7 linked regions of the Homo sapiens genome follow. The protein of the gene in region 4 purifies or fractionates together with the protein of the main gene of each other region. This does not show direct contact. Each region holds a gene or a part of one and is shown on either strand. Other genes may lie near its edges. The genes, in order: PPP2R5D, ABCB8, FAM219A, GPR37, ATE1, SLC6A3 and WDFY1.

Region 1 (3,500 bases), on a different chromosome or scaffold from region 4:
TAAGAGTTGGGCCCAAAACACAGGGCTGAGTCCAAACATGTTCTTTTAACCTCTGTGCTACACAGCATTTGACTACTGAGCTGGGCTGAAATGTGTGTGCTTCACCTGTTCTGCAGGAGCCAGGGAGCAAGGGTGGTAGGCCTGGTTCCTCCATGCCCACTCACACCCACACACTAAGGCAGCTGGATCTCTCTTAGGCTCATTCTTTGAAAGATACGTCTGAGGCATCATGCTGAGTGCTGTAGGGTGGGTGGAGGGGTACAAAAAAGAATAAGCAGCTTATGGTCTAATAGATTGGAGATGTATGAAGATGGGTCAGCTTTGTTCAAGGGGTTCATGTCTGGGGTGTGTGCAGACACCTCAATGTTGTGTCCTGCCTGCACCCTGCCCCCGGCCTATTTCTCTCCACCCCATGCTCTCAGCCACTGATAAGGGTCAGTGTGGCCAGCTGGGTTAGTATACAGCAGGAGCGTGCTCAGGCCAAAGAAGGAACTCCTTCCCCCTACTGCATGGAGCTGCTCTACACCACACCTTTCTTCCTCCCCACCTCCAAGAAGCCTTCCCCCTACTCCAGCCCACACAGAGCTCTCTTCTCCCTGAAATCCTTTTGCCCCCATAGTCACAATAACTCGATTTAACACTTCTCACTGAAGGGGCTTGGCTGCTATTGAATTGCACAATCTCAGAGCTGGAAGTGATTTCCAAGATCCTCCAGTCCTCATTAAAGGCTTGAATTTCTTTTGCAACATGCCTTACAGGAGGTCACCAAGCCCCTGCTTGAATGTTCTCAGGGGTTGGGGAGCTTTCGGCTTCACTAGGTGGCCAGTTTTAGTGCAATTGCTCCATGATAAAATTCTTCCTTGTTTGGAGCTTCAGGTGGCTTGCAACTTCAGCCCATTGCTCTCGTGCCTCTGGTCCATATGGACAAGTTGCATCCAAGGCATCCAAGTTGCATCTTCATTTGTTTAAGATCCATCTTGCTTCTCCATCCCTCATGACTCCTCCCTTCCATTGTTAACTATCCCAGTTCCTGCAGCTGTTGGTCTTGGGACATGCCTTTGAATCCACTCCCAGTATGGGTTGCATTTCCCTCTAAGAAACACTAGGATTTGTCATGGCCCCTCCCAAGCCTGATGCTCATGACTGAACCAGATCCTCCAGGATAGCCCTGTCAGTGCCAAGCAGTCTGCACAGGTCTTTTAACAAGATGGAAGGTCACATGAGCTGCACATGGATGATTTGTGTTGAGCTTGCAGTCAGACCTAAATCCCCAAGTCTTTTTCACATTTTCCCTATCCTGTCCCTGTGCAGTTGCTTTTTTTGGCTCGAAGCATAGGAAGAGATGCTGGGCAGGCCAGGGCTCTGAGCCAGCTGCCAGGTTCCCAAAGGAGACTTCAGACTAGTGCTCACTCTTTGTAACAGTTCAGGGTTTTACCCCCATCCCTGTCTTAGTGCTTGTCAACTGAGGTGCTCTTGGCATTTTGAGTGGGACAGTTCTGTACCTGTTAGCATTCCTGGGCCTTACTGATTAAATGCTGAGTAGCACCCTCTTGTCTGTGCGCTATTTGTGACATCCAAAAATTGCCTCCCAGTCTTTCCAGGTGGCTGTGAGGGGAGAGTGGTGACTCCCTGCACTCCAGCATGAAAGCCTCCGGCACACCTTTGACCACTTTAGCCAGAAACCAGTGAGCAGCTGTTCCCTGATGCTTTTTCTTTAAGCCTCCTCACCCTGGTTCTGACCTGAGCAAAGGCCCTCCCAGGCCCAACCTCTGCACCAGCCTGATGAGGTGAAAGATGGAGCATTCTCACGCTGAATTAGTGTGTGTTTGGGGTGACTTCCTAACCAGATTCTAAACTCTTTGGAGGGGCTGAATCTCCTTCTGCGTAGATCCCTCCACCCACCCCAGCTCCGCACAAGGTAGATTCTAATTGATTGATTCAACTGGACAGAGGATATTTGCAACAAAGATCTAAGGGAGCCAGATAAGACCTCTCCCTTCTCCTGGCATCTGCTAACTTTACTTTCATCTTTTCCTTTCAGGAGCCCCCCAAGGTTGCCAAATGCACAGCCAAGCCTAGCAGCTCGGGCAAGGATGGTGGAGGCGAGAACACTGAGGAGGTAATGAATGTAGGCGTAGCCTTAGATGTGGTGCAGGTGCCACCCGCAACTCCATGATGGCTAGTTGGGTAGGGGATCCCAGGGGGTGAGGCAGAAGGGAAGGCTTCCATATCCTGGGAGGGACCTGGACAGCCCATCCAGACTGCCCTCAGGCAGGATTTACCTTTGGTTGGTATAGACCAAATACATTCTCTAGTTCTTCAGACTCCCCAGAGATTCCTATGAAAGTTGTTTCTCTGCTTACCAACTTGGAATGTTGAGAATTCCTTTTTCTTAGGGCAAAAAGCGGGAGGTTCTGGGATCCTGGGCAAAAGGGGAAAAGTCCACAGACACTTGATGGGGTAACAAGTGACTTCAGCATGGCTCGGGTGGGGCAGGGGATTGGGAGGGGCTGGTGTCCCTGAGTTGGGCCCAGCTGGGCCCACTGCCCTTGGTCCTGATTGAATGGCAGCATGACTAAAAGACAGTCCTGAGCAGAGTTCAGCGCAGCTTAGCAATCTCGGGTTATAAAGCAATAAACAGCAAGCCGAGAGAACACCAGAAGAGGGAGAGACTTAAGGAAGTACACAGTATGTCCATGAAAGTTTGGGAGTGTGCACAGTGGGATGCTCTGGATGGTGAAAGATCCTGTGAACATACACAGCGAGCATCCACCACATCCTACCTGGAAACTGGTGTTTGGTGCTTTCTCTGCTTTCTCCCTCTGCTCTAAACTGTTCAGAGGGATGAAAGAGAACTGGAAACACAGCTCTCTAGTTATGGACAGGTCTTATGGTTTTTTGGGAGAAGAGATTGATGAGCAAATGTTTGGGGTTAACTATGCGTTTAGATGTTTCTCAGTACTTCTGGTGATAGGTCACCTCTAAAGAGATACAAGCACTTTTCACACCTCATTTTAGGCCTCATTTAAGTAATGAGAAGCTGAGTAGGTTTTCCCCATTTTATAGGCATGGAAGTTGAGGACCACAGAAGAGGAATTATTCTTTCCTCTGCACTTATGCAGTATTCTACTTTTTTTTTTTTTTTTTTTTTTTTTTTGAGATGGAGTCTCTCTCTTGTTGCCCAGGCTGGAGTGCAATGGTACGATCTCGGCTCACTGCAACCTCCACCTCCCGGGTTCAAGCAATTCTCCTGCCTCAGCCTCCTGAGTAGCTGGGATTACAGGCGCATGCCACCATGCTTGGCTAATTTTTTTGTATTTTTAGTAGAGACGGTGTTTCACCATGTTGGCCAGGCTGGACTTGAACTCCTGACCTCAGGTGATCCACCCGCCTCAGCCTCCCAAAGTGCTGGGATTACAGGCGTGAGCCACTGCACCCGGCCCTTATGCGGTATTCTAAATATCTCCTTAATAATCCTTATCACTCAGCTCTGTGACGAT
Region 2 (3,500 bases), about 26 Mb from region 4:
GGGTTATGGAGACAGAGTCCATAGAAACATTCTCTTTGCCCCAGAAACTGGAGGGGCCACCATACACAATGGGACAGTCTATCTGGTGGATTAGATTAGGATCTCTTGAAGAATCAGACGTTCAAAGTCAGAGGTGAAGTGAGGATGCAGAGTGGCCCCCAAAAGGGAAGGACAGTTCGACTTCCTACCAAGGGCCCAGAATCCCTCCCCAGGAGTGGGAGTGGGAGGAGCTGGCAGGGCAGGGCGCTGGGAGTTGGGGGCTTGCATTTGCCTTTCTTCTGCACAGGCACTCTCCCTGGCGGACAGCAGGCATGCCCTCTTCATTCACGGCCCTCAAAGGGAAGGGTGGACCCTCGCTGGGCAGTGCCACCTCAAGCAGAGGGAGAACGGCTGCAGCTCAGCACCTCCACTATAGGCTTCTCTAGACCTGGATGCTATGGGATTTGCAGAGAATCTGAGGGATTCCCCATCTGTGTAGACTGCTGTAAATGCGGACAAAGCGTCCCTGCTCTGGGAGACCAGGCAGAGCTGTGGCTGCTCCCACGACAGGGATGCCTCACCCAGACAACAGCTGAGGACATGTGAAGACGGCCAGGGTCTCCCGAGAGCAGCAAGGATGAGGGTGGGAAAGAAAGAAAAGGCACCTGAGGACTAAGGGGGCAGGGCCCAGGGGAGGACGGGCAGTGGGAGCCAAGGGCTGCCCATGTGGCCCCGCACCTGGCTGATGAAGCCGACAACCTGGCCCCGGAGCCAGGAGGGGTCAAGGGTGCGCAGGTCCCGCCCATCCAGCATCACCACGCCTGCCGTGGGGTCGTAGAAGCGCTCCAGCAGGGAAGCCACGGTGGTCTTTCCTGGGGAATTGGGTTGAGAGGGAGGGAGGCCAGGGATTCTAGGGATTGTCCCAGGAAAGAAGGCCCCTTGTGGCAGTGGAGGAAGGGACCCCACCGGGGGCTCACTGCTCCCGGCCTTGCTCTGAGTGGCTGCTAGAGAAGAGTCAGAGGGTGAAGAGGTGGTGGGCTCCCCTTACCTCCGCCAGACTGGCCCACGAGGGCCACGATCTTGCCAGGGGGCAGCGTCAGGGTGAAGTCTTTCAGCACCTCGAAGCCGGGGCGGCAGGGGTAGCTGGGAGGAGCCGAGAGACCCCCAGTCAGACCAGGCTCCCAGCCCTTGTTGCCCGGGTCCCTCCTGAAGTCTCCCTGTAGCCCTCTGAGAGGGCCTGTTTATGGGGGACATTAGTCCAGACCTCCACCCCCGAATCCACTCGCCTCATCCCCGGCCCAGGGACCCATCCCCACGCCTGCTCACCCGTGCTGACCTGAAGCAGACGTTCTGAAATGTAACGGAGCCACGCAGCTGCTCTTTGGGGACGCAGCAGCCCCCAGACAGTGGGATGCAGGGGTTCAGGGCCATGTACTCAAAGACCCGGGCACCTGCACTCAGCCCCCGGACCACCTGTGGGAGGGGATCCAAAGTCCGCAGGGAGGCAGGAGTAGGGGTGACAACAGCATCTCCAGGGAGTGGCCATGGCTCTGGGCTGGGGTCTCCCCAGCTCCTCTGCCCGCCCACACCCAGTCAATAGGCAGCTCCCACAGCGGCACACACGGCACAAACTCCACACCCCAGGCCCTCCACCCTACCGGCCACTCACCTGCCCAAACAGGACAGAGAGGTTGGCCATGGACCTGTCAGAAAAAGGAGAGAGGGGTGGAATAGATGGGAACAAGAAGAGCCAGAGGAGGGGAAGGAAGCCACGGTGGGGCGGGGGAGCAAGGAAGCAGGTGGCCTGTGGCCAAATGCAGAGACTGCTCCTGCACCATGGGGGCGTAGAGCCCTGGGACGTAGCAACACCAGATCGCTGAGCCCTGGCTCCCTCCTTGGCCAGATGAGGATGACAGCTGTCCCTCAGCTCAGCCCAAGCCCCTGGGAGGGGGTGCTCCACGAGGAAATGGAAGTGAAGGCACAGGCCTCTGTGGGTGTCCTCCAGTGCCCTGGCCTGTGGTCTGCAGGGTGAGGCCTGTGCACACATGCAGCGGTGATATCAGCCCACGAGGAAGGGAGCCCAGCTGACCCACGGACTCCCTGCTCGGCCCTGAGGATGCGGAGGCCGCCACCATGAACAGAGATCAAGGGTGCGTGGCTTAGAAGGGGAGAGCAGATCTAATGCTGCAGACTCTTGGGGAAGCAATGACTTTGGCAGACATTTAGGTGGAAGAAGTGATGTTAAATCTTTTTGGAGAAAGAAGAAAACAGAAGACACTGGGCCACAGGGGAACTCTCAGGAGACCCCAAAACAAAATTCCCTGAAAAAAATTTTTCTCATGAGCTTGCCCTGCAGATAAGTATACCCACAGTGTTATCTGTCTAGACAGTGGGTGGCCTCCTTCGTCCCGGCAGGGCCGGGGTAGGGCTGGCCGGCTGCCAGGAGGCTGAGGAGGAAGGTGAGTCACTGGTCCCTGACTGGCCTGGCTGACCTGTGACAGTGTGTGTATGCCTGGTCCCCTCCTAAGTAAGAGGAAAGACTGACTCCCCAGCAACCCTTCAGCTGCAGACTCACTTCTTCCAGCACTAGGGTGGGGGTGAGTGGGAGGAGCCTCGAAACCCAAAAGGAAAAGGTCCCAGTGGACTCAGTGCAGTCAGCACTTGCTAAAGGCAGCCGGGGGAGGCACCAGGCAGGAAGGAGCCAGCCCAGCCAGCTATCTGTTGATGAGCAGGGGCACATTCTCCACCAGAGATCTGGAAGACATTAGGGCCTGGCAAAGGGGCTGGGCAGCAACTGAAATTCAAAATGCACATGACTCATTGGAGTGTGATGACCCTGCTCTCAGGGGCCGTGGGCTGTAGGCTACGGGCCTGTTCCCAGGTGGAGCCTGGCCCTGATTCTGATGAGGCGGCTGGGCCCCACTTGCTGTCTGTCTGGGCACCTCCCCATCTCCATCAGGAGTACTCAGGATGGGCTCATAGGTTAGGCTGCCTGAGGTAGGCCGGGCCATCCTGCTCCCCTCTCTCTGCTAGACCCCAGTGCCAATGCATGGGCCCTTGGCTTAGCTGGCAGGACCCTGTGGGAAACACATCAGCTGCTTTATGCAACAAATCCAAACCCCCAAGATGAGTGGGGAAGAATCTCCACATAGGCAGCGCTAGAAGGACCTCCAAGAGGATGGGTCTAGGGCCTGTGGCTGTGGGAGCAGCCAGCGAAACAGCACAGACAAGCCCCTGGGGGTTCTTGTGTGTGTCATAAAGCTGCTGGATGGCCAAGCAGTACGGTGGGAGGTAAAGTCAGAGTCTCAGGCCCTAAAGGGGAAGTGGGGGTCCCGAAGCGGGAGGGTTGGGGCTGGACAGTGCAGCCACCCTCCCCACAGGGAGACTGTCCCACCACTGCCCACCACAGAGGGCTAAGGGGTGATTTTATTAAGGGAGCCACTGGGCTTCTTTTTTTTTTTTTGAGACGGAGTCTTGCTGTTGCCAGGCTGGGGTGCAGTGGCGCAATCTCAGGTCACTGC
Region 3 (3,500 bases), on a different chromosome or scaffold from region 4:
GGTTCTCCCCGGAGACACTCTTTAGGTGTCATTTGTGAACTGGAGAAGTCCTCATTAGAACTATTTTTTTGTCCAGTGGCTGTAGCCTTGAAGGCTGGTGTGGCTTGGTCAGTCAGTTCTCTGGATCCTGTGAAGGGACCTGTCCAGCACAGGGAAACAGAGGGAGAAGACCCATCTCAGACAGCACCTGCTCTCCCCTTAACCCAGACTTAAACTCACAGGAACCTAGGAAGACCTTGCCAAGCAAGTACACAGGAAGGGCCTGAGGGGAAGGGCTACTAGTATGGGAGTTAGGAGAAGGAAGTCCTGTGAGTTTAAAGAAATCATGATGGGCTTTCTGGAGGAGGCTGGACCACACAGGACTTTGAGGACAGACACCAAGTTGGGTGTACATGGAACCCAGATCCTTGGTTCTTCTACCTAGCCCAGTGTTTTTGTCCCACGGTAGATGGGTCTGCCCCTCTCTCCCTGAATGCCCTGCCTGCTCTGAGGGGTGAATGCTCACAGAAGCCCAGAGGGCAGGTGGGAAGGCTAGCTTCAGGACTGAGAGCAGCCCCCTGTCTTCACTCCCTAACAACTCTCTGTCTTACTGCTTTCTCCCCACAGGACCCAGCCGCCGCCTCCATCTCTGACGGAGACTGTGACGCCCGGGAGGGTGAGTCAGTAGCCATGAATTACAAACCATCCCCGCTCCAAGTGAAGCTGGGTGAGTGTGTCTGGGGGGTGAGGGAGATGTGGGGAGTAGGCAAGATACTCTGGGCTGGGTCTACAATGAGGTGCCACAAATAAACCAGCTCAGCCTAGATGATTCCAAGACTCAAGCCTTCAAGTCATTGGCACTGCGAGGCACCTTGTCTCCTGCAGGCAAAGAGGGCAGTTACAGTTCTCTGCAGGAGCCTGAAACTCTAAGAGGCATCTCTGAAGCCAAGAACGTTCCAGGTATTCTGGGGCATAGCTGCAGGGGGAAAAGCATGGAACCCCAGAGAGAGGACTTGGAAGTCCCATCAAACACTGGATCAGGCTGAGAGGAAGCTGCCTTAGAAGTGGGATGTTACTTGTTATGTCTAAGGGATAGAAAGGAAAGAGAGTTCCAACCCTAGAAGCCGAGCCCCTCTCCCGATTACAATCTCAGCCCATCTAGAGATCTCTGGGCCCAGTTGGCACCTATCTGGGGGAGTTTTCCCTTCGTTTCTTAGAAAACCCAAATATCTCCCTTCCTTTCTGGGTCACATTTCCCTTGTGGCTTTGTCTCATGTCCATTCCAAAGTCAGTTTACTGTGCAGCCTGATCCTGTGAAGTCCCCTCGCTTCTGGCCACTGTCCACAGCTCCTACCACTATTGCCCTCCCTTCACCTCATGGGCTGTCCCTCTCCCTTCAGGGACCAAAGTTTCACTGTCTCATGGCTGCTGTATATAACACACTTTTATGAAAACTTTGGTTTCTTGAAGAGAAATTACAAAACAGGACATACAGGAAAGAATTTACAATTAAATATAGGTCATTACTATCCTTCCAAGTTCCTCTGCCATCAAGGCCACCCTCCTGTCCATCCTCCTCCTCAGGCTCCAGCTGCCCAACAATTACTGATGCCTCCTCAGTCCTAAGGGCCCTTTGCCTACAACTTTCTCCTTCCTTTCCACAGAGGCCTGTATTTTATTATTCAACTACTATTTTTTTTTCTTACCTTGCTTGCTTCTGTCCTTCCAGACCACATCCAGGGAGCCCCTCGAGCTGTTTTTCTAAACAAGAATAGTCCTCTCCTTGGAATTTGTTTCTATTCCTAGGACATCAGATTAAAACTGCAGCCAATTTTATTTATCAGGGGTGTTGGTTGTTGTTGTTGTTGTTGTTGTTGTTGTTTTGAGACAGAGTCTCTCTCTGTTGTCCAGGCTGGAGTGCAGTGGCATGATCTTGGCTCACTGCAACCTCCGCTTCCCTGGTTCAAGCGATTCTCCTGCCTCAGCCTCTCAAGTAGCTGGGATTATAGGCGCGCATCACCACGCCCAGCTAATTTTTGTATTTTTAGTAAAGATAGGCTTTCGCCATGTTGGCCAGGCTGGTCTGGAACTCCTGGTCTCAAGTGATCCGCCCACCTCGGCCTCCCAGAGTGCTGGGATTACAGGCATGAGCCACCATACCCAGCCTATTATTGTTTAATATCACAATACAAATATTTTAACAAGCATAACTTCTTTACTCTCCCCCATCACATTCTCCTCCTAAGAGGTAACCATTCCAAGCCTTTTCAGTTTTTGTAGTTTTACTTTGTATTTTAACATAAGTGGTATCATATTGTGCACATTTTCTGAAACTTGGCCTTCCCTCTTCCACCACCTAAATCTTGGAGCTCCTTCCAATGTCATCATATTGTGACTTCATTCTTTTAAATGGTTGTATAGTAGTCTTTAGTTTGGTTTTGCCAGTTTATTGTTTGCTTTTTTCCCACTATTTCAAACAATTTCAGCATGCTTTTAAAATAACATCTTTTTTTCTCCCCATTACATTACCATCAAAGCTCCTCATGAAAATTCACAGCATTGTCCCAGTTGCACCTAGTACCACCAGGAACTTTAAGGCAAATTGCACCCCCTAGAGGCCTGGAGTGGTAATGGCAGCTGCCACCTGCTGGAAAGAAGCTGGGAAAAAGCTGGAATCAGCTGAGCACTGGCAAAGAAAGAGGGTCAAAGAGTAGAAGACAGAGATTCAGAGACATGAGGTCAGGGGAAATTTCCAAGTGAGTCACAGTAGCTGTAAAGGTCCTTCCCATCCTTACCCTCTGGAGCATTTGGCTATTTTATGAGTCATTTTCCCTAGTGTCCCTCTCCACCTAACAGTTCCTTTTCCTAGATCTGGCCTTTACTTGAGATGAGTAGGGAAGAGTAGATGGGACTCCTCCAAGACCCAGGAAGCTACTTCTGGTAACAGTTGTCACATACCAGGCAGTGGACTGGGTCACCTGATGGCCAGCTCCATGAAGCTGGTAGGCTTTGGAACCTTGGAGAACTCAGACCTTGGCAAAGGAGTCAGGAGCACCACTCAGGCAGCGTAGCCAAATGGGCTCCCCCAGCCTTCTGCCCCTTACTTTGTAGCCCCATCCTGCACCTCCCACACCATAACCTTCAGTGGCTTCTTCTTCCTTCTGCGTTAATCCCAAACTCCTCTGTCTGGCATTCAAGTCCTTCATGTTCTGAGTTTGTAACCAGAGAGGGTCTTCGGCCCCTTAGCACAGGACCAGACTTATAATTAGTGACATGGATATTTGTTGAATAAGTGGCTGAATAAATGAATTTTACTTCTCTAACCTGACCTCTCTCTTCACCCCTCTATCCAGAGCCACACTTATGCTCACTTTTAAATGCATTTTTGCACACACTATCCCTCCTTCCTAGAATGTCCACCTCTCTCCAGGTCATGGTGTCACCTAAAGGAAGCCCTCTCTGACTGCGCCATCCTTCTGTGATTGTCTCTCCCCCGCCAGCCTTTCCCTGGCATCAAGTAC
Region 4 (2,704 bases):
CTACTTTGTGAATGCTTCCAAGTACAAATCATCTCACAATACCATATACAACATACTTTCAATCACAACTCAAATATAAAATAACCTACAAAATCACATTGCTATAATCAATATACAATAATTGTATTTTTAAAAGAAGAAAAAACGTTAGCAATTTTAAGTTAAGTTGCAGTAACTTTTTTCAAATAAAATATTAGCACCATACCAGATAAAATAATCTAAAACTATTGGCCTTCTCATTCTTCTTAAATAACTAAATAGAAACTTTTTTTCAAAGCACAAATATTAATTTGTAAAATCAGTTCTACAGTAGTTAATATTTCTTTCTTTATTGTTTCTTTTTTGCATTTTTCCCTATAAGGAAAAATATGAATTAAAAACTTTCACGGGATATGAAAATCAAACAAATAAATCTGACCCAACCAAGTACTGTCCTTCAGCAATGAGTTCCGACAGAAGCAAAAGTGGACATTTCACGGCGTATGGTACTGAAAGGCGAGAGTTCGAGTTCCGTGGTGTACTCGTTGTCATTGTCATCACTGGTCACCGTTGAAGACTTCTGAATGCATTCCTCACAGCAACAGCAGCAGCACTCCATGAAGGCCCGACTGAAGGGTTTGCAGAGACAGAAAAGGAGGACTGGGGTGACACAGGACTTAAAGAACAAAAGGAACTGGCTGATGATATTAAGGAGGTCCATTGTCTGCTGTGAAACCCCTGTAGCCATGTAGGCAGTAACAATGTTGCAGATATTTTCAGGAATAATGCAAAATCCATATAAAATGGTCAGTGCCACTACTGTACAGTTCATCTGACTCTCTAGTTGAATCTGCCGTTTATTCCCTCGGGTACAGGCTTTCTCTGCTTTGCGGATTTTCCTCGCAGTCACTAGAGAGCAGGTGATGGTGAAAAGCGTGGGCAAACAAAAGTAACAGCCAAAATACCACCACAGTCTCGCACTGTCGTAGGTGAGGGCTAGAACATAGATGGTGTCTGGTAAATCAGGAGAGATCTTAATAATGCACCTTTCTGCCGGAGCTCGGCCACTAAACCCCAAATCCTCCTTGCTCAGCTGGCGGAGAACAACTTCTGGAAGTGCTAACAATAGAGCTCCCACCCATATAACAGCAAGTTTGGCAGTTGTTGAGGAACAGTTTTCGATCATTTCGTAGTACATCTGTACGTTGGTGGCAGCACGGAAGCGGTCTATGCACAGAGCACATAAGGTGAAAGTGGTGACTCCCAGAGAAGCGACCTGTGGGGGAACATAGAAGACATTTATTCCCGGTGTCCCCCGAAAGATCAAAGCACTAGGAAATAAATGCAGATTGGCAAAACTGTAAAAAAAAATATGGATAAATAAAAATGAGAGAGAGAGAGAGAACAGTTTTCCAGAATGAGGCATGGGTAACTGGGCTCAGGACGTCAGCTGAATCATTGTAAGCATAAAAAAAGAAAACACACTGTAGTGGTTTGAGGGTCATGGAGTGCAGAACATTTAGGACTGGAAGGATCCATAAAGATCAGCTAGTCCAATCCCTTTTTATTATAGATCAGAACCCAGATACACTAAAAATTTTATTCACCACGAAAATGTCTGCCACTAGGAGATCTAGATAAGGAGTCAGGGTAGTGCAGAAATTCCCATTTTCATTGCTGACCAGGATGCTCATGTTTTCCAGTGTGAGGGTCAGTAGTGTGCCTTACACACAGCAAACACTCAAGAGCTTATTGTCTCCAATGGACTAAATGATTGGAGGGCTCCTCCAATTTTTCCTAAATGCAAAATAAAGTATTACAGTATTATTTTCAAAGGCATACACTTACGGAAAACAAGAAAGGGAAATTCTCCAGAGGCCAAAATCAAAAAGGAAACAAATTTCAAACAGGCCAGAGACCCCTCCCTCTTCATGCTGCGTGTTTGCCCTAGGGGCACCTGCCAATCCTGGTGAGGGTTTCAAGTTAGTTTTAGCTAGAAAAATGGGGCAAGGTGCCCAGGTGCACAGAGACAGGAAACAGAGCTGGGGCCAATGTGGGTGGGGATTGGGTCAAAGACTCCCTGTGAATTTGGAACTCCTCAAATGCTGACATCTTTAGAGGTGTAAAGGGAAAAAAGAGAGAGAGATAATGAAGAAATCTGCCTGGATGACAGGGTTTGGGTCTGGATGAACTGGGGGAAAAGGAGGGAAAAAAATGGCAAATTCTAACTGGGAGCCTGAACTTACATGGTGTTAGGATCAGAATTTCCAGGATCTACGTGGCTCAGAAAACCCAAAATACAATTTAAAATAATCCCAGGCACCTGGTTAAAATCAAACATAAATCCTCTCTGGAAGAATGCACTTTAAAACCAGGCCTCAAAAAATCCTATAGTTAAAATTCAAGGGACATGGGTTCACAAAATCAAAAGTCACAATATGCAAGAGACAATGAGCCACTATGAATTTATATGCCAAAGATACAGAATCAGACATAAGAAGTATATTTATCATAAAATAGGTATGTACATCAAATTTAAAGAAATAGGAGATACTAAAATAGAACATGTAAAAATACAAGAAAATATGCAGAAAATAGCCAAAAAGAATGTCTAGATATCCCAAACACAGGAAAATTTTGGAGCATAAAACTCTTTGACAATAACCACATGAAAAACTGTATTCAAAAAGGCACTGCTCTTATAAGCATATGGTCCAGACATCTA
Region 5 (3,500 bases), on a different chromosome or scaffold from region 4:
GAACTAATAAGCACAAAACATTTTGCTAAGTTTTCTGAAGAGACCAGCATGTTAAATCATTGGGGATATTTATTAAAGTTTGAAGGTCTGATGCAGTCTGATTGCAGTGAGGACTTAAATTTATGCTGTCATAGAGACTATTGACTAATCCTCAAATAAATATAATTAACTTCGATGTGTTTTTTTGAATGAAAATATATATAGTGTCATTCTTTATTTGTGCTGTGTGTATGCCCAACTAACAGCTGTGAAGTATGTACAAACTTTTCATTTATCCAATATGAGTGTTTTGGAATTTTAACCTAAACACTCCTATTTTTTTTTTTTTTTTTGAGATGGAGTCTCACTCTGTCGCCAGGGCTGGAGTGCAGTGGCGTGATCTTGGCTCACTGCAACCTCCGCCTCCCGAGTTCATGTGATTCTCCTGCTGCAGCCTCTTGAGTAGCTGGGATTACAGGCGCCCGCCACTATGCCCAGCTAAATTTTTGTATTTTTAGTAGAGATGGGGTTTCACCATGTTGGCCAGGCTGGTCTTGAACTCCTGACCTTGTGATTTGCCCGCCTTGGCCTCCCAGAGTGCTGGGATTACAGGCATGAGCCACCGTGCCCGGACACACACTCCTATTTTTAAACCTCACACTTTGAATTTAAAAAAGAAAAAAGGTTACCCTGCCGTAATTAACACACTACTTATTTTTTCAGGCATGTGGGCACATTCCATGACAGTACAGGATTATCAGGATCTCATAGACCGAGGATGGCGAAGGTAAAGCTTCCAGATACAAAGAGACTTCCTACTGTTACTCAGGTTCTTGAAAAATACAGCATGCCTTTGAAATGCTTTCCTGTTGGAAAGAGGTTTAAGAAAAATTTTTATTATATTCTTTTATGTAGTGATTTTTTGTCTCCTTTTTAAAAAACTTTGTTAGGAAAATGTCAAATATCTATAAAAGCAGAGAGTACATTAGAATGAACCTCAAGTACCTATCACTAAGCTTCAGCAGTTATTAACGTTCTGCCAATCATGTTTGATTCTCCTGCTCCACCTTTTAATATTTAACAGCAAATTACATCAGTAGGTTATTATGACATTTATCCTATCAATAGATAGGCAATAAGTATGTATCTCTAAGAGAGAGGTCTTTTTTTCTTTTTAACTTATCCACAATGCTGTATCACACCTTACAAAATTAATAAAAATTCTTTGATGTTACCTGTTACCTACTTTTTATTAGATTTTCCAGATTGTCTCAAAAATGTCTTCTTTAACAGTTTATTTGGATAAGGATTTCCTTAAAGTCCACACATGGCCTGTTTTGAGTAGTTATTTTTATGTGGATGATTTTTAAGTAACTCTTAGGTAAAGTTCCTTGTGTAAATATAAGTAATATTAAATACTGTACGCTAATACTTGCCAAAGACGTGGGATTGGGAGCACCAGCTGAAATATCACAACTTTCCTTAAACTTAATGAGATTCAAAAGGTAGACATAGGTCAGATTTTAAAGGACTTCACATGCCATGATAAGGAACTTTTTTTTTTAGAGACATGGTCTCGCTCTGTTGCCCAGGCTAGAGTCGCTCTCTTGCCCAGGCTAGAGTACAGTGCCATCATCATAGCTCACTGTAACCCCAAATTCCCACACTCAAGTGATCCTCTTGCCTCAGCCTCTGCAGTGGCTAGGACTACAGGTGTGCATCACAACACCTGGCTAATTTTTCAGTTTTTTGTAAGATCTTGGCTATGTTGCCCGTGCTGGTCTCGAACATCTGGTTGCAAGTGTTCTTCCAGCTTAGCTTTTCAAAGTGTTGGGATTATAGGTATGAACCACCATGCCTGGCCAGAACTTTTTAGAAGGCAGTCATGGAAGGATTTTATGGTAAGAGAGAAATGTGAAGGAATTTGTTTTAGAAAAGATTGTTCAGATGGCTGAGAGGTATTTGAGGGGGGGTCATAGAGGCAGGAAGATGAGTTCAAAGGTTATTGCGCTATCCAGATGTGCGATGATGAGGACTGTCACCTTAGTGGCAATGGTGATAGAGAAGAGGGGACAATTTAGGATAGGGTTTAAAATGAAGGAAAGCTTGCTAATAGGATATAGAGGTGAATTCCAGGGAGGAGTTTAAAATGACTCCCAGGTCTCTGACTTGAGAACAGAATGAACAGTTCTGTTAGTACCATAGACCTGGAATGCATGGAAAGAAGCGGGTTAGTTTTGGGGTACTCCGTGCTGGTGCATGTGGAATACCCAAGTGTGGTTGTCACAGGCATCACATACATGAGTCCCACAGCATCGTGGGCATTTCTCTCATTGCCCTTGTGGTATTGGGGATTGGTGGCAGGTGAAGGCAGAGCAGGGGTGGCAGATGCTGGTGAGAGGGGAACTGAGATGATTGGCCGTGGGGTACACAAGTAAAGCTTTAGGAAATAAAAGGCAGGGTTCTAAACTTTGCTACACGCACTTTGAAGATTATTTGGCTTATGAAGAGTAATTAAACCTACATGCATTTCTACAATGTTGATTAGATTTTTAACCTTAATTTAATGCTCCTGTGCTAGGCTGTTTTGGTGCAAGTGAAAAATATATAAGACATTAACAAACTATTTTTATAATTTTAGAAGTGGAAAATATGTGTACAAACCTGTCATGAATCAAACATGTTGTCCTCAGTACACAATAAGGTAAGAATTTTAATTAGTAGAAAGAGGATTTATAGTATGAAGATTGTGTATAATATTTTAGTAGTCTCTTGTGCTTTTTTAATGTTTATTTCCGCTCTAGGTAGATGTCCTTTAAAAGGAAAAGTAAATGAGTTATGTCTTTTCTTCATACTGATGCTGTATTTATGTGCTGATCAGTAGGTTTTAGTAATATTGTTTGATTGGTTCAGATATAAATATGTGAAAAAAATACCCTCTTAATTTAGCAATCTTGTCAATGAATGCCATGAAATATTGGGAAAATGTTGGTAAATATTCACATTACTTTTGGATATTAAATATTATAGGACTTAGCTTAGAATTTTCTGCATTCTGGTGTATTGCTTGACACAGTGCTTGTGTTCAAGCAATGCTACAGGCTCCTATAAATTACTTGGTAGGTTCACGTTCTCATGTTGTGGGATTCAGGAGGACAAGAGAGACCTCGGGTTAAAACAGGAGAAACTTTATTGAGTGCACTTAGGCCCAGCTGACTCAACGTCTAAAAGACTGGGCCCGGAACAAAGACTTTTATACACAGTTCACAGAAGGGGGTGGGCTAGCTTGAAGCAAGCTTACAGTGGCGTGAAAGCAGGGATACAGAGGCAGGACAAACTCAGGATTGCACATGACCGTTGCCAAGCAACCCAGATGTCCGTTATCTAGGTTTGCCTGGGCTTATCCCATAATCTTCACTATGGTGCCCAGGCAGCTGCAGTTCAGGCCTACTCAGGCTTCTCATGACATTCATTGTACTTCTCAGATAAAACAATACTTGAAGTCACTAGTTACAGAGAAC
Region 6 (3,500 bases), on a different chromosome or scaffold from region 4:
CCCTCTGTCCTTTGGGCAGCATGTCAGAGCCTCAAGGCAACCCCAGTTCCTGGGACAGTGTGTTTGGAGGCAGATGGCCAGGCCCCGCAGTCAGGACTCTGCAGGTGGCCAGTGTTTCAGCATGAGGGGAGGAGCCAAGCCGAGAGTGGCTGGGTGGGCAGTGGGTGGAGAGGCTCATACCCTGATGTGGCTCCCATGCTGGTCATCAGCCACCTGCCTGGCCAGGTAGCTGCAGGCTGGATCAGGTGTCACAGGGGAGCGCCTGCCTCCTCCTCACCCTGATCTGTGTGTGCAGCTCAGGCCTCTGCCCAGTGCCACACCAGAGCCAGTGCCCATGGCTGCCTCCCTGGGCCTCACCTCATGCACTTTCACTCCAGGACCTGCAATTGTCCTTTCCTTCCATTTCTTTCCTGATTTCTCTTCACTATACATCAATCCATCATCTATTATCTATCAATCAATCATCTATCTATCTATCATCTATCACTGTCATCTATCAATCCATCACCAATCTATCATCTATCTGTCATCTCTATAATCTATCAACTGTCTATCATCTATGAATATATGAAGTACATGTGTGTGTATGTATCTATCTCCATCCATCCTATTGTATATCCATCCTATCTACCTACCTATCATCCATCCATCCACCCATCCATCATCCATCCATCCACCCATCCATCATCGATCCATCCATCCATGCTATCCAGCTACCTATCATTCATCCATCCACCCATCTGTCCATCATCCACCAATCCACCCATCATCCATCCATCCATCCATCCACCCACCCATCCATCATCCATCCATCCATCCATGCTGTCCAGCTACCTACCTATCATTCATCCATCCACCCAAACATCCATCATCCAGCAATCCACCCATCATCCATCCACCCACCCGTCATCCATCCATTATCCATCCATCCATCCATCCTATCTAGCTACCTACCTATCATTCATCCACCCATTCACCCATCCATCATCCATTCATCATCCATCCATCCATCCATCCATGCTATCCAGCTACCTACCTATCATTCATCCATCCACCCAGCCATCCATCATCCAGCAATCCACCCATCATCCATCCACCCATCCATCCCATCCATCATCCATCCATTATCCATCTGTCCATCCTATCTAGCTACCTATCATTCATCCACCCATTCACCCATGCATCATCCATTCATCCATCCATCCATCCATCCATCATCCATCCATCCATACTATCCAGCTACCTACCTATCATCCATTCCTCCATCCACCCATCCATTATCCATACATCCAGCCAGCCAGCCTTCCATCCACCCATCCTATCTATCCATTCTATCTACCCACCTATCATCCATCCATCCTATCCACCTACTTACCTAGCATTCATCCATCCATCCATCCATCCATCCATCCATCCATCCATCCATCCAATCTATTCACTGTCTCCACCTAATTTCTGACATCTCATCTTTGTAATTTGTTCTCCAGTGAGCATCTTTTCACATGCACTGGTGTTTGTTTTGCCTCCTCCTGGGGCTGCCTATTCTTCCTAGCTGGAGCACTAGGCTCTACGTTGTCCTTGTGGTATTTTTCTTTGATTCTGTAACATGCCATGGTCCTGCAAACACACCCCTTGGCTTCATTTTGGCCTTTCTGGGGTCCAGACGCCCTGCTGACTTCATGGTTTGTCTGGCTCCAGCTCTGCACTTGTGGGCCCCCGGCCACAGCTGATTTTGCTGCCCTGGTTGTCCTCCTCTCTCTTCCTTGGCTCCCGTGGGCCACACGCCTGCTGCACCCATGGCTCCTGTCTCCACAGGGCTTCCCCTTCAGTGCTGCAGGCACACTTCCACCCCCACCCCCACCCAACTGCTTTGCAGCCTCATAGGTGCCATGTCCAGGTGCCCTCTCTCACTGCACCTGTCAGCTGCTGCCTCCCTGGGGCTTCCTGGGAGGCTTGCAGCCATGCCCGCCCATCCCTTCTCCCCTTCCTTCCCACTTCTGCCTTGGGTTTACACTTGCCTCATGACCCCCAGACCTGGCTCCACCGGCCCACCCACACAGGGCAGCACCTCTCAACGGCCTCCTGCCTCATACCCCAGCTGAGATGGCCCTTCCCCTCTTGCTGCATTGTCCTCCCACAGCAACATGGATGCCCCTGGGCGGCTTTGGGGCCTGCCACCTCCCCCACTTAGTCCACCTGATTTCCAACGATGCCCCAAGGGAGCTGCCATTTTTGTCATGCCAGCCTTCCGCCAACAGCTGCTTCTGTTTCTGGGCCTGTTTGCCAGGAAGGGTGCAGCCCTTTCTCCTCCCTTTCTGGACAAGGGTCCCATCCCCCATGGCCCAGCTGAGTCTCCTCTCTCCGGGAGGCTTTCTCCAAATATTTTAACCCTGAATTATGTCTTCTTTTGCTGACCAAAGCTGCAGCCTGAGTCTAGATGGAGTTTCTGATGTAATTTGATTTAGATGACTCGTGCTGTATCACAGGTACTTGGGATTTGGCTTCCCGAGGAAAGAACCCTGGTGTCTGCAACTCTGACACCTCTCAGCCCTGGCAGGCAATGCATATGGAAACCTGGGAATGCCAGAGCCCCTGTGGACTGTGAAGCAGTGAGCAGACTGTACTCACAGACGCCTCGCAGAGCCGGTAGAAGTCAACGCTCAGGTATGCTCTGATGCCGTCTATGGCTCCAGGGAGGGTGACCCCACGCAGGAGCAGGGCAGTGAGGACCACGTATGGCATGGTGGCTGTGATCCATACCACCTGCAGGAGAGGACAGTGTCACCAGGCTGCACAGGCAGGGCCCTTGGTGGGAGCAGACACTGGCACAAGGGCACCGGGTTGCCCTGACGGCTTGTCCTCTGATTGGGAGGCCCAATTCCCAAACATTTCCTGGGACGCCAGCTCAGCAAATGCTCCTTGGAGTGAGAAGGTCAGACACTTTCTGTCCTGCACACCCTCCCCAGGGATGGAAAGGGAAGAACAACTTGGCAGGGAAAGCACATTCCTTTTCTGCATTCGGTCCGCCAGAGTAGCTGGGAGTGGCTGATGGGGGTTTTCTGATGCGTGGGACGTGAGTGGATTCACACTGGTGAACGGCACTGTGGCACGATGAAGGGCTGCTCTGGGCTGTGTCCCTGCGGGAGGCTCCCGTGGCTGGTGCCATACTACACGCACTTTTCCAAGGGAGGAGTCGTATCTTGGTCAAAACTGGTTTTGGCCCATATAACAACCAAAGTTTTTTTTTTTTTTTTGAGATGGAGTTTTGCTCTTTTTGCCCAGGCTGGAGTGCAGTGGCATGATCTTGGCTCACTGCAACCTCCGCCTCCTGGGTTCAAGCAATTCTCCTGCCTCAGCCTCCCACGTAGCTGGGATTATAGGCACGTGCCACCGTGCCTGGCTAATTTCGTATTTTTAGTAGAGATGGGGTTTCATCATGTTGGCCAGGCTGTTCTTGAACCCCTGACCTCAGGTGATCTGCCCGTCTCAGCCTCCCAAAG
Region 7 (3,500 bases), on a different chromosome or scaffold from region 4:
TTTTTTTTTGTCACCTTCTGGGATATATTTACCTGGGGTCATTCACAGATAGCCACCTAGTTCACTGTAATCAAACTGCATATGACAAAGCTAGATACGGTCAGCACTCCAAAGAGTATTAAGCCAATGTGGAATATCAAAGCTTAATGCCATTACACCTGGGAGTCACAGGTCATTAGTGGTTTGGGTGGTCAGCTTAGGGTTCTGCTTAGAAACCTTTATGGATTAATGTCTCGTGAATGGTTAATAGAAAATGGTACTACTTCTTGTATGAAGTCATTAGTATTTTGCTGAAGTAATAATTACCTTAAGCTCTTTAATTTAAATTTAAGTTTAAGAATTTGAACTACAGTGGTGACTTTCCTGGTAGGGGAAACAGAAAATAAGACTCTGCTTTCAGAGCGGAACTAAAATGGTGAGACAGTAGGAACCAGTATGTTTGCTTTTTGGACTTTTTTGCTGTGGACTGCACCAAAAATGTAGACAGTCAGTTGATTGAATGATACAATTTTTAAAAGGTAAAAGCTTTATAAAGCCTTATAAATAAGTTAAGGCTATAGGCCTACTGTCTTCACTTTTGAGAAATAGAGTTTGTGGATGGACGTACTTATACTGTTGCATTAGGGGCTCGTAGGCCAAGATTGGTTTCTGCAGGAAACTCAATTTTGTTTGTCCCAAGTTAAAGATAAATCTCATGTGATTTAAAATGTTTTGAGATGTTGCACTTAGGCTGGGAAAGAGTAAAGATTACAGAAAACCAACTTTTAGATGTTTTTTAGCATTTTCCTTTTTTAAAAATTATACCAAATATGTAATATATTTGCTTCCACTTAGATATATCTAAGTTTATTAAGATGGTTTGGGGAAAAATTTGTGTATTTACCAATTGTTCACATAGAAACAATCTTAAATAAATAACTTGATTTTTAAGTGTTATGCCTGGGAGGAAGGCTGGCATAGCTGGAATTCATTAGTTAATACAGAAAACCAGGATGTTAACTGCTGTATTTTCATTGTCATGCAGAGCCTAAAAGTAGACTTTAATTTGTGTTATAAAATAAACTGAAGACTTGAGAAGGCAGGAAGCCTGGGTGGCCACCCCACACATTTACTCCTGTATTGTTAGGGTGATCCTTCATTGTTACAATCATTTTCTTTTTATAGCATAGTTAAGAACAAAGGCTTGGGAGCCAGAATGCCTCAGTTTGAATCCCAGCCCTGTGATCTTAGACAAGTTATTTAACCTCACTGTATCACAGTTTTCTCATGTGCAAAATGGACATGAGTCCGTTTTGTACCTGCTTTACAGAGTTTTGTGAGGATTAGGTGAATTAAACCACGTGGAACAGTGCCTAGCACAGAGAAAACATTATGCAAGTGTTAGTTGTTATTGTTTTCATTCCCATTTATTTTCCATTTAATTGCTTTAATCTTAAAGACTGGGACAGAGAAAGCACTATACAAGTGTTAGCTATTATTATTTTCATTTCCACTTATTTTGCATTTTGTTACTTTAATCTTACGAAAGAGTAATATGTTTCTACTTTGTATGCATGTTTGTGTGTGCACGTGAATAAGTGAAAATAAAAAAATTTTTCCTGTTTGAATAGGACAATACCATTTGAGGGGTTATTTACAATCCTAAATTCTTAGAACTGCCTTTGAGTCATGCCTTTTCTTTATTTCCATATTTGGTTACTTGCAGGTCATGTCAGTGATTAGTTTCACTTAGACATCTTTCCCCTGCTATATTTGAGATCCTCAAGATCGGGTTCATTGATTCACTAGAAAGATTGACACATTATAGTCATACGCATGGCTGTGATTTATCATAGCCAAAAGACGCAAAACAAAATCAGCACATGGGGTGAAATCCAGAGGAAACCAGACACAAGGCTTCCAAGAGTCCTCTTCCTGTGGAGTCACAGGACAGGCTAATTCAGATTGAATTAAGACAACATGTGTGAAATATTGTTTATCAGGGAAGCTCCTTAGAGACTTTATTCAGTGTTAGAGGCTGGTCATGTAGGTGCCCTTGGCTAATGTTCCAAAATTCCAAACTCTCAGAAGGAAGGTAGGTGGTCAACATAAACCACATATTTTATACAGGCATGAAGCACAGTGAGCCATTCTTAGGAGTTAGGGAATGGTGAGGTCCCCTCTGGATAAACAAGGTCCCAGACACCTGCCAAGGGCCAACCTTGCAAGCAAGACTTTCTAAGGACAGCAGCAGCAGGCCTGCTGTGGGAACTCTTTTCTGCCCACCTGCCCATAATTACCCTAGTGTTTGTCCTCATCATCTTTTAAACCTCATTTTTCAAAGCCTATTAACTGGCTTCCCTGAGTTCCAGCATACTGTACTTGGATCTGTCCCACTAATCTCCTATCTTTAACTAGGCTTTTATTGTGTCTTTTTCCTGCTCATGACCTTTCATTAGCTCCTTATTTAATCATGTCTGTAAAAGGACTTTGGGGGCCGGGCGCAGTGGCTCATGCCTGTAATCACAGAACATGGGGAAGCTGAGGCAGGCAGATTGCTTGAGGCCAGGAGTTAGAGACCAGCCTGGCCAACATAGTCAAACTCTGTCTCTACTAAAAATACAAAAATTAGCCAGGTGTAGGGGCTCATGCCTGTAATCCTCCCAAGAAGCTGGGCTGAGGCACGAGAATTGCTTGAACCCAAGGGGCATAGGTTGCAGTGAGCCAAGATCATGCTGCTGCCCTCCAGCTTGGGCAATAAAGCAAGACTCTGTCCCCAAAAAAAAAAAAAAAAAAAAGGACTTTGGGAACCCCATAACTGCTCCCTGCTAAGCTTTATTTCCACCTTCTATCTCTCATTTATTATGGTTCTTTTGTGTCCAGTGAAGTCAGTGTGTGTTCTGTCCCACTCACACCTGGTACATTTCCCACCTGGGTGCCTTTGCCTCCCTCACCAGGAACCTCACTTGCCCTCTCTCCTGTATTCAGACCCTCCTTCATCTCCTAGATCCACTTCAAGTTCCACCTCCTCCATTGAATAATTCTTCCCAGCCCATCATTCTCTGTCCTTTCTGAGCTTCCTTCAACACTCCTAGTATATTACTGATGATGCCTAGTTAATTACAATCAGGTATTAGTTCCTGTTGCTTTGTGTTTATTCATCTTATCTTCCCACATAGTCTGTACTCCACCAGGTACTGCATAACTAGCTACTGGTTGAATGATACAGACTTAACCATTTCTGCACAGTAGACATTTCCTCTGCTGTGTTTAGCTTTAATAATCTGCTAGTTCTTTCCTAAGAAGCAGATGGTAATATAATGAATGATACTTGTTTCTAGAATTTAGGTATTCATCTTCCCTCTCTACAAAGTATGCTCAGCAAATCTTTCTGAGAGTTGTTAAGACATTATTAGCACATATATACTGATTTCATGATGTATTTTTGTCATACTTCATGGTGAAATAATCTCTTTATTCATTTTTCTTTGTCAACCACATACTACTTTGCTCAAAACACT

Evidence for each region.
Region 1: the proteins of GPR37 (region 4) and PPP2R5D purify together in Homo sapiens (affinity purification with mass spectrometry; 2 studies listed by BioGRID and IntAct, with this or other methods). This does not show direct contact.
Region 2: the proteins of GPR37 (region 4) and ABCB8 purify together in Homo sapiens (affinity purification with mass spectrometry; one large-scale study listed by BioGRID and IntAct). This does not show direct contact.
Region 3: the proteins of GPR37 (region 4) and FAM219A purify together in Homo sapiens (affinity purification with mass spectrometry; 2 studies listed by BioGRID and IntAct, with this or other methods). This does not show direct contact.
Region 5: the proteins of GPR37 (region 4) and ATE1 purify together in Homo sapiens (affinity purification with mass spectrometry; 2 studies listed by BioGRID and IntAct, with this or other methods). This does not show direct contact.
Region 6: the proteins of GPR37 (region 4) and SLC6A3 purify together in Homo sapiens (co-immunoprecipitation; one study listed by IntAct). This does not show direct contact.
Region 7: the proteins of GPR37 (region 4) and WDFY1 purify together in Homo sapiens (affinity purification with mass spectrometry; 2 studies listed by BioGRID and IntAct, with this or other methods). This does not show direct contact.

The regions. Positions count from the first base shown.
Region 1 is NC_000006.12:42,987,570-42,991,069, forward strand, and holds part of PPP2R5D (serine/threonine-protein phosphatase 2A 56 kDa regulatory subunit delta isoform), read left to right. Parts: intron 1-2,041; coding exon 2,042-2,119; intron 2,120-3,500. UniProt on the Homo sapiens protein: The B regulatory subunit might modulate substrate selectivity and catalytic activity, and might also direct the localization of the catalytic enzyme to a particular subcellular compartment.
Region 2 is NC_000007.14:151,038,450-151,041,949, reverse strand, and holds part of ABCB8 (mitochondrial potassium channel ATP-binding subunit), read right to left. Parts: intron 1,683-3,500; coding exon 1,649-1,682; intron 1,453-1,648; coding exon 1,316-1,452; intron 1,123-1,315; coding exon 1,028-1,122; intron 852-1,027; coding exon 718-851; intron 1-717. UniProt on the Homo sapiens protein: ATP-binding subunit of the mitochondrial ATP-gated potassium channel (mitoK(ATP)). Together with pore-forming subunit CCDC51/MITOK of the mitoK(ATP) channel, mediates ATP-dependent potassium currents across the mitochondrial inner membrane.
Region 3 is NC_000009.12:34,403,071-34,406,570, reverse strand, and holds part of FAM219A (protein FAM219A), read left to right. Parts: intron 1-606; coding exon 607-706; intron 707-3,500.
Region 4 is NC_000007.14:124,746,089-124,748,792, forward strand, and holds part of GPR37 (prosaposin receptor GPR37 precursor), read right to left. Parts: intron 1,256-2,704; coding exon 437-1,255; 3' UTR 1-436.
Region 5 is NC_000010.11:121,921,532-121,925,031, reverse strand, and holds part of ATE1 (arginyl-tRNA--protein transferase 1), read left to right. Parts: intron 1-702; coding exon 703-766; intron 767-2,620; coding exon 2,621-2,683; intron 2,684-3,500. UniProt on the Homo sapiens protein: Involved in the post-translational conjugation of arginine to the N-terminal aspartate or glutamate of a protein. This arginylation is required for degradation of the protein via the ubiquitin pathway. Does not arginylate cysteine residues.
Region 6 is NC_000005.10:1,417,941-1,421,440, forward strand, and holds part of SLC6A3 (sodium-dependent dopamine transporter), read right to left. Parts: intron 2,764-3,500; coding exon 2,629-2,763; intron 1-2,628. UniProt on the Homo sapiens protein: Mediates sodium- and chloride-dependent transport of dopamine. Also mediates sodium- and chloride-dependent transport of norepinephrine (also known as noradrenaline). Regulator of light-dependent retinal hyaloid vessel regression, downstream of OPN5 signaling.
Region 7 is NC_000002.12:223,935,336-223,938,835, reverse strand, and holds part of WDFY1 (WD repeat and FYVE domain-containing protein 1), read left to right. Parts: intron 1-3,500. UniProt on the Homo sapiens protein: Positively regulates TLR3- and TLR4-mediated signaling pathways by bridging the interaction between TLR3 or TLR4 and TICAM1.